Regions from separate parts of the Homo sapiens genome. Here all the other regions are reported to be linked to region 2. Evidence: microRNA targets listed by miRTarBase, many of them from high-throughput screens and not tested one by one. Region 2 holds a microRNA gene; each other region holds the end of a gene's coding sequence.
What was found. The annotated mature microRNA hsa-miR-6894-5p reads AGGAGGAUGGAGAGCUGGGCCAGA and lies in region 2 at 1,499-1,522, opposite strand. An mRNA with a match to its seed (bases 2 to 7 or 8) in the 3' UTR can be bound and repressed. Matches are read on the target gene's strand: a 7mer-m8 pairs with bases 2 to 8, a 7mer-A1 pairs with bases 2 to 7 and ends in A, and an 8mer does both.

Region 1: the mRNA of ATG13 is a reported target of hsa-miR-6894-5p. Seed matches in the 3' UTR shown: 7mer-A1 at 427-433.
Region 3: miRTarBase lists DENR as a target of hsa-miR-6894-5p. The part of its 3' UTR that is shown has no 7-base or 8-base seed match.

What each region holds. Positions count from the first base shown.
Region 1 is chr11:46,671,857-46,674,856 of GRCh38, reverse strand. It overlaps ATG13 (autophagy related 13), which reads right to left. Exons shown (of 19, transcript NM_001346311.2): 19 at 339-2,602. The coding sequence ends at 2,525. Among named protein-coding and RNA genes, the nearest start is that of ARHGAP1, 27 kb to the left of the region's middle.
Region 2 is chrX:53,197,419-53,200,634 of GRCh38, forward strand. It overlaps MIR6894 (microRNA 6894), which reads right to left and starts at 1,527; the gene lies at 1,471-1,527. It overlaps KDM5C (lysine demethylase 5C), which reads right to left. Exons shown (of 26, transcript NM_004187.5): 15 at 1,559-1,740; 16 at 1,346-1,470; 17 at 1,072-1,219; 18 at 353-458.
Region 3 is chr12:122,768,739-122,771,738 of GRCh38, forward strand. DENR (density regulated re-initiation and release factor) reads left to right here. Exons shown (of 8, transcript NM_003677.5): 7 at 44-183; 8 at 296-2,326. The coding sequence ends at 340. Among named protein-coding and RNA genes, the nearest start is that of CCDC62, 4.3 kb to the right of the region's middle.

The DNA.
Region 1 (3,000 bases), not on the chromosome of region 2:
TGTTATGTAAGAGCAATAAAGAGCTGATAACGGTGGCCTGCATTTTATGGAGATTTTACTATGGGTGTATTTTAAATGCATTCTCCAACTGAATATTCAAATTCAAGCCCCTGATAGGGGACCAGGGAAAGAGAAATACTAAGAAGTTTCCTGACCCAGGAAACCCCAGGGTATACAGCCCCTAAGAGGCCACACCCGACTCAAAACAGGCTTGCCCAGACACTTGAGGTCTTTCTGCGCTTCACAACGCACCACTCTCCCCTTTCCCAGACCTGCACTGGGGCAGGGGTGGGGAAGGGGTTACGAGGTCTTCAGACAACCTACAGGACAGGAGGCTGTAAAGTACAGAAAAAAATTTATTGGAAATCCCTTGAATACATTTTGAAGTGTAGCTCGGTATTTCCAAACAAAGTAGGTTGGAGAGGTTGGAGGAGGAGGAGGGACTCTGACACCTGGAGACAAACAGCTGGTCCCAGCCTGTCCCGGGGGTGCTGCAGGAGTCAGTCTAGGGCTCATTCCTTTCATGGCAGGTCTGAGGGGCAAGGGCTGGCCTTAACAGTTGCTTTACTTCTCCCAAGCTCAGCTCAAAGTCATGGCTGAGACTCTTCACAGATGGAGCCCTGGTGAAAGGCTGCTGCCACCTGTAGATGCCAAAGATTGCTGCCTCAGACAATGGCTAGGCCTTTCCATGCAAGGCCTTGGAAAGAGAGCAGTAGCTGAAATATGGGGGCATCAATAACTTACCAGGGGCCTTCCCCCTTCTCAAAGCTGGGGCCTTGGGGATAAACCTGAGCCTGGGTTCAGCAAGCCACGCATGTGCTCTGGGCCAAAGTCAGGAGGGCCAGTTGGCTGCTACTGCTTCTGCTAACACTTCTTGGTGGCAGCAGCAGCACGCAGAGCTCTGGTCCCCGCCAGAGCCTGCTCCAATCCTCAGAAGTCAGCCTTGTATGTGGGAACAGTGTCACATGCAGTATACTAACAAGCAGCTGAGAACCACCTGCTCCACTGAAGCACAGCTGCTGCCAGTGAATGCCCCAGGTGGGCCAGGAGGAATGGAGTAGACCTAGATCTCCTTGACCAGGACTACCAGCGAGGCTGGGAAAGGACAGATCATAGGTGGGTGAGGCTAGGCACTTGACTTATTCAAGTAACAATACCTGAAGGGTTAAGTCAATCATACGCCCAGCTTTGATTTCTCAACCAGAAGCCAATCCAGCTGGTAAACCCCAGGGCAGTGTAGAGAACCTGGGATTAGAGGGAGATGGTAGCTAGGCCCAAGCAGGAGGAAAAGCTCCACAGGACAGCCCCAGGGATCAGGAACAAGTACCCAGGCAGTTGGGGGACACACACAACATCCCCTAACCACTACATGTGGCCATCACATTTAGCACCCAGGACTTCCTGGGCTGCCAGAATGGAGTCAGTCACTCTGCAGAAACTGTGGGAGATGTAAGGCTCTCACCAGGAATACGCAACTATCCAAGGTAAAGCCTTTAGTCAGTTCCAGTGCAGCCACACTGGGAGGTGACTTTGCCCCCGGCCAGCCCTCTTCTTGGATCTCGCTGTCTGTATGGTGGGAAGATCCTCAAAGCAGCAGCCCGGATTCTCAATAACCTCCGGAGGAGGAGGTCTCCGTCCCAGGAAGAGCCCTCCGCCTTCTCCAAGTGAAAAACAACTCACCTCAAACATATTTCCTCTATAAAATATCTGGTTTCTCTGAAAGTAATAAATATTTACCATGTTCTATAACCAAGGAGCAGCAACGGGGGGACAAGAGGAAGAGAACTTTGCTGTGACTCCAAGTGACAAAATCCTAGAGATTCAGGGTGCCATTTTTATTTCCCATGGAGCTGAGGACCTGAGCACAGGCAGCCACCAGGGCTGCTCAGACCCTCCCGACCTTCAGGGGTGGGAGTGGTTTTGGAGTTCTGATCTTGGGTAGGCAGGCCTGTCATATTGCCAGAAATACAGGCATAGAGGCAAGAGAGAGAAGAAGAGGAGAAGAAGATAGCAGGAAGTAAAGGGGACAATGAAGAGAGCTAAGGGACTCCTTCCTTCTTCCTCCTGGCACTGTCTCCTTCCTCTTTCTGCGACTCCACACCAATCTCTTGGCCACCAGCTGGAATGTCAAACAGTGGATGGTGACAGCAGGCAGGGAAGGGGCCAGCTGCAAGGCAGGCCCAGGCAGGAGGCCGGCAGCAGGAGGAACAGGATGACACCCTTGGGAAGCAGTTGGTGATGGGCAGGGCACACAGATGGCCCTGCTGAGGGCTTTTTCGTACGAAGGTTCTTCCCATCTCCAAGGCCAGCACGTGAGTCTTCTCCAACTGGGCACTGGGCTTGACTGCCGCCACGGAGTCTCCAGGAGGTCCAAGAGTAGGGACTTCTGGGTCCCCATGGGAGAAGCCAGCCTCCCTTCCACCTGGCTCAGAGCAGGATGAGGGGTGGGAGCAGCTGATGCATGGGAGGCTGCTTATGCCCTGGGGCCACAAAAAGGGGGTGCTGCTGGGACTCAAGGATACTTTTACTGCAGGGTTTCCACAAAGGCATCAAACTCGCGGACATTCTTCTCATGCACAGCCAGCTTCTCTGGTAATGAGTCCTGTACCGGAAAGAGAGGGAAGAGCCGTTTATTCAGGCAGGGCCTTGAGGAGGCAGCCAGCCCAGTCCCGAAGAGGGGAGGCAGCAAGCAAGACGAAGCTCAGCCCTAGCTGGGCCGAGCAAGTGGGAGAACGCAGGGCAGCTGCGTAGGCACAGGGTAGGGAGGGGTATATGCATCAGGGCTTTGCAGGGGCTGGAGGATTAATGGAACGGCCTTGGGAGTCCAAGTGGGCCACACACTTAACAAAAGAGAAAAGGACCACAAGAGCAAGATGATTCAGAAATTAAACATGAAATATCCCTGGCACAGATCTGACTGACACTAGAATAAAATACCAAGTGTACAGCTCTACAAATTAAACAGTTTACAAAAGATTTCTTCACACCCTTTGCTGGGCA
Region 2 (3,216 bases):
ACCCTGGGGTCTGTTGCCCTCTCCATCTCACTCCTCCTCCACCTTCATGAATTTCCCTCCACTTTCCAAGCCCAACAAGCACCCCTGTTACCTCCTTCTCCTCTACCCCTCCTCCAGGAAACCTTACCTGGACTCTGTATCCTATACCCATACCCTTGCCACCTGACCCTCAAGGCCCATTTCTAACAGACAAGTCACTAGACCCTTGCCTCACCCCTCCCACCTGTTCTTTTCTCACACGTGTGTCCTGTCTTGCCTGAACACTTTAAGCTTTTGAAAGGAGCCAAGCATGGCCTGCTGCTCAGGTCCCCTGGTCCCCTTGATCCCTCATCAGCACTCCAAGCGTCCTCACCTTGACATCCCCAATCTGGTGCATGGCGCAAGGCAGGTTGTTCATCTGGTCCAGAAAGGCCCGGAGCTCAGTCAGGGTCATCTGTAGACCAGCCACCCTGTGGGGGCTATGAAGTATCACATGTGAGGTTTCAGGTCCAAACTCAGTGCCTTCCCTCCATGTCTATGCTAAGACTGAACACCTTTCCTCACTACACCTGTCCACCTTGATCTCGCATATTTCAAATTTGCCCCAATTGCCCAGGTTAGAGGGAAGGTTTTAAATTATAGAGCATGTTCATATTATGAGGGGAAAGAATTAGAAACTAATGGGTTGTAATAAGAGCTACACTTTGCAATCCATCCTCTACTGTGAACTCTAAAGCTGTGTTAGCAGGGATCAGGTCTATACATCTTTGTCCTGTTCTTACCCGTAAGCCTCCCACAACTCTTCCCTGCCCACAAAACCCCTCAGCCTCTCTCTCAGGCCACTTCCAGGTACTGATAAAAAATAAACACTTCTAGCTTTCTTATCACAGAGGCTCTCCTCTCCTTTTTAGGTGGCCTGGTCTCCTTGTCCCCCCCAACACCTTCCAGGCCATCTCACACTCTTGTGCCTGGCAGCTTCCTGCTGATGTCCATTCTGCCAAATGGTATTCACAGTCTACCCCTTGCAGCACTTTTCCTCGGTGCTGGATCCTCAGCACCTTATGTGTGCCCTAACTCCTCACGCTGTCATACCCAGCTTCCTGGCCGCTGACCAGTCCCAGAGCTCGGGACACGCAAGCCTCTGCCTCACTCAGGCAGTTCTTTAGTTGCTGCAGCAGCTCACTATTAGGAAACCTCCGCTCACGGGCTTCAGACTCTAGTGCCCTCAGTTCTTCAAGGCCTGGAAGAAAAATGAGGGCAGCAAAGAGTAGGCAGTATTGAATAGAGGCAGAGGAAGGGGGTCAGAGTACAGAAGAAAGGGAATAGAACTTGCCTGTGGAGTCCCTCCATCCCCCCCATCACTCACTGCGCTTCCGCCCATCCTCCACCTCCAGGGCCACTCGCACTTTGTTGGCCCAGGTGTCAAAGGACTCAGCCCGAACCTTCAGCTTATGCAGCATGGCAGGAAGCTCATCCAAGGTATACCGATACCTGGAGGAAGAGGGCAGGCAAGAGCATGTCTGGCCCAGCTCTCCATCCTCCTTCTTGCCCCACTTCCTCCAGAAAGGCCCATGCTCACCGCAGGTACTGCCGGCTACTGGAGCACTTGCAGAGATCATTGATGTGGGAAAGGCAGACAAGGCCGTCTGGGCAGTCGTAGCAGGCCAGGGCTGACAGGAAACACGTAGTCTTGCACTTGATACACTGGCGCTCATCATCTGGGAGCAGCTCGAAAGCCTCTCGCTCAGCCTCTGTGATACCCTAAGGGCATTTAACCTATGCGTTATATATAACCAGAACCAGGTAGCAAAATCCTCCATCTCAGCCACCACCGACCCCTACTTTAGATTCAAATCTATGCTGAGGGTCATGGGGTTTAAGAGGCCAAACCCCAGGGAGCATACCTGCCCTTTGTAAAGTCTAGACTCTCAAAGCTTGGGGAATCAGATAAACCAGGGCAAGATCAGTGTGCGCTGAGTCAGATAATTTTATAGAGGAAGAAAAATCAGGTAAGATCCAGATCAGCAGAAAGGGTCTTGTGGGTGAGAAGTGAGGAAAGTGGTGGACCAAGATACCAGAGAGGTGGCAATGAGTGCAAGTGGCCAAGGGACAGGCCTGGCTAGTTATGTGTACTGGGGAACAATATCGGCTTCCAGTTACTCAGAGCCCACTGTGTTCCAGGCACCACGCTGGCCACTTAGTAGGCAGGAGATACTTGTGCACATATATAACTTAGAGAAATTCAACCGTATGTGCTTGTGTTCAGGGTTTAAAGAGATATAATAATTTTCTCCCAACAATATGGTTTCCAAACCTAATCCAATGACTTCATCTGTTGCTCAGATAAAGAAAAAGCAATCCATTTCAAAAATGAAGGAAAAGCTGGCTATATTGGAGTAATCGAGAGACAACCCAGTGTGTATATCTAATGGGCAATTTTAGGGATTTTAATGGGAAATGTCAACTCTTAACAGTTTTTGTCTTACATACCAACTTTAACACCTAATCTCTGCATAAGTTATGAGCCCAAATCCCACTCTGCCACTTATATGCTGTGTGATCATGAGTAAATCATTTAACGTCTCTGGGTCTGTTTCATTATCTAGTAAGATGGAGATAAACAGTATCATCCTTGTTGGGTTGTTATGAGGATTAACAAAAATAAAGCAGCTATGGAATCAGACAAGTATCTCAGCACTTAGATTCAGTGTTCATCAAATATTTACTGTTATTAGCTCTAATTTTCAGATAAGAATATATATTCCACAGGCCTATCTCATTTTACTAAGGCAGAAACTAAGTCTCAGGGTCAGTAACTTGCCAAACTGAGTTAATTTTGACTCTAAAGCCAGAGAATATTCTAAGGATGAAGTCTCTAGGGTTTTTTTGGACTACAGACTCCTGAGAATTGGATGTAAACTATAAGTCCTCTTCCCAGAAACATACTTAAATACACATACAATCTCTTACAGGATTCCAAGACTATGGTGTCCAGAATGCTTCTCTGAGGTAAGGGCCAAGTGTGAAGAATTCTGAATGTCAAGATGAGAAGGTCTATTCTCCCCACCTTGCTTTGGCTCCTTCCCACAGCTTGGCACAGCCACACGGCCATCATTTAATAACAGTACTGAACAGAGTGAGAAAATGATGCCTGGAAAAGCCCAGGGACTCAACAACTTACACCACGACTGAGAGGCCCCAGACTTCCAACACTACTGTAGCTATAGTTCTCCCTAT
Region 3 (3,000 bases), not on the chromosome of region 2:
ATTCCAATTACAGTTCTTGCTCTTTCTTTTTTTAAAAAAATAGAAATTGATCTTAAAGAAGCACAAAGATTTTTTGCTCAAAAATTCTCCTGTGGTGCCTCAGTAACAGGGGAGGATGAAATTATCATTCAGGGAGATTTTACAGATGACATAATTGATGTCATTCAGGAAAAATGGCCAGAGGTGAGTGCATGGAACACATACATCGCTAGAGATAAGTTTTTAAAGCAAATTGCTTCCATTTTTTCTTAATTGCAACCACAACTCATGAGATATAATTATTTGTGTTTTATAGGTAGATGATGACAGCATCGAAGATCTTGGAGAAGTAAAGAAGTGAATTTGAAAATTTGTCTGTATTTAATGGCCTGAACTGAGAGTTGATATGGCCAAAGGGAGAGAGGCCTTTTAAAATATATATATATATACACATATATATGTATATATACACATATATGTATGTATACACATATACACATGTATATATACATGTGTGTATGTATACATGTATATATATATACATACACATATATGTATACATATATACACATATATGTATACATATATACACATATGTATACATATATATATATTCTACAGTAAAACTGTAGACTGTCCTCGTCCTTGGCATTTTCACTGTTCTGTACAAGGCTGCTTGTTTTTTTATTGCCAAAGTCAAATAAACGGGAGACTGTCATGCTCATGCATGAATAGAATTTAGTCAAATAAAAAATTTTGGTCATTTGGTACTGACTTTCTCTCTCTCTCTCTCTCTCTTTTTTTTTTTTGACAGAGTCTCGCACTGTTGCCTGGGCTGGAATGCAGTGGTGCGATCTCGGCTCACTGCAACCTCCGCCTCCCGGGTTCAAGTGATTCTCCTGCCTCAGCCTCCCAAGTAGGTGGGATTACAGGCGCCCGCCACCACGCCCAGCTAATTTTTGTATTTTTAGTAGAGATGGGGTTTCACTATGTTGGCCAGGCTGGTCTCGAACTCCTGACCTCGTGATTGGCCCACCTCAGCCTCCCAAAGTGCTGGTATTACAGATGTGAGCCACCGCACCCAGCCTGAGTTTCTCTTTCTCTCTTTTTAACTTTATTTTTTGAAAAACCCGGTAGACTTTTTGTGGGGAGCATTTTTGTTGATAATTTTACTGATCTAAAGCTGAGTGATTTTTTAAAAGAATTTGAATTTGGCTTCCTCACCAGTAATATGTCTCCTTGCTTCTTTGATGTGATAGTTTTGAGATGGGTGAGAATCTAATAGATCTGTGGTTGAATTTGCTGTGTTGTTATGAAGTCCACCCTGTGGGCACAATAACATAACTGTTGGTAGGAGTTGTTTGAGCTATTCTGGAGATTATTTGGTAAAGTATACTAAAAGCCTTAAAACCATGTATGTGCGCTGTTTGAACCCGTAAGCCACTTCTTTGACATTAGAAGACATTAGAAGAAATAATCAGCCTTGCATAAAACTTATGGATGAAAGTATTCATCACAATATTATTTATAATAAAAAATTGCAAATGTTATAAATGAACAATTGGGAAATGGTTAAAGAAGTGATGGTGCATTGTGTGGTAGAATATTATGCATATGTTTAAAGAATCATATTTTCTAAGATTATTTGGAAGCATGTTTGGTAATGTCAAGTGGAGTACCCCAGATACATTTTAGACATTTATCGTCATCATCTGCTCTGAGTGGAAGGCCGTTCAGAGAGGCTAGAGGTTCTTATTCTGGCTATAAATTATGTGAGTAAAATTGTGCTAACCAGTTAAAAGTACTGTACACCCATGCTCAATATATAGTCCTGGAAATAGCAATTGAAACATGTCTTCTCACAAGAGAAAATGACAGTTTTAATGATGTATTTGATGAATTTAAACTTTAAGTCAGGTGCTGCAAATTGGAAAGAAGACTTGTGGTGTTTTAAGTTGCTGTGGACACTTTTAAGAAACTTAGAACCCATGGAACCCTTGTTTATCGCCATGCAAATTACAATCTTGAATGAGTGTTTTTTAAAAATAAAGTATTAGAAAAATGTGTAGTAAAGATGTAAAATTAAAAAATGGAATTCTCCATTAACTGTGGATTTTACTAAATAGAATTACTGGTGAAGCAGATTTATCCATCGAGACTATCTGGTATGCGTTATGTATGTAGTCTGTTGCTGCTGAAAGATGTCTGTGTGCCTGTATCAACATGTGACTTCATGTAAAGTTTCTTTGTGTTCACAGTTCTTAGCAAATGCAGTTACAATCCATAGATAGCCAGCAGTGGATGTTACTCCAGGAAAATGCAGGATTAAAATTGTCCTTGTGTATAACGTGTGAATCATTTTTTTAAACTGAAATTTAAAATGCAACATAGTTTAATCTCTGATTAAAATGTACTAATAGGGCCAAGCTGCTTTGATGCATGGCTATAATCCCAGCCGAGGTGGGAGGATCACTTGAGTCCAGGTTCAAGACTAGCCTGGGCAACATGGCAAGACCCTGTCCCTATAAAAAATACAAAAATTAGCCAGGCATGGTGGCGTGCGCCTGCAGTCCCAGCTACTTGGGAGGCTGAGTTGGGAGGATCACTTGAGCCTGGGAGGTTGAGGCTGCAGTGAACTGAGATCACGACACTGCACTCCAGCCTGGGCAACAGTAAAACCTGGTCTCCAAAAAAAAAAAAAAAAAGTACTAGTAGTTCAAAAATTGACTTTACACATTCTCACAGTCTACCATTTTTAGTAAAAAACATGAACCTTTAAGCAGCCTTATAAGAGATTTTCCATGATTAAGCTGGCAACTTTTAATGCAAATACTTTTTGCATATAGTTTGGTAAGTATTTCATTTTTTAAAAACAGATGCTGACAGTAAGTGATTTTAAACTTTTTATTACTACATAAAAGCCAGTCTGTGGTAGCTTTCTCACTCTTAGTTTAAAAGTTGATAAATTACTGTTTTAAAGATGAATTTTACCTTTTAGTTCCCTGTTCTCATTATTTACTA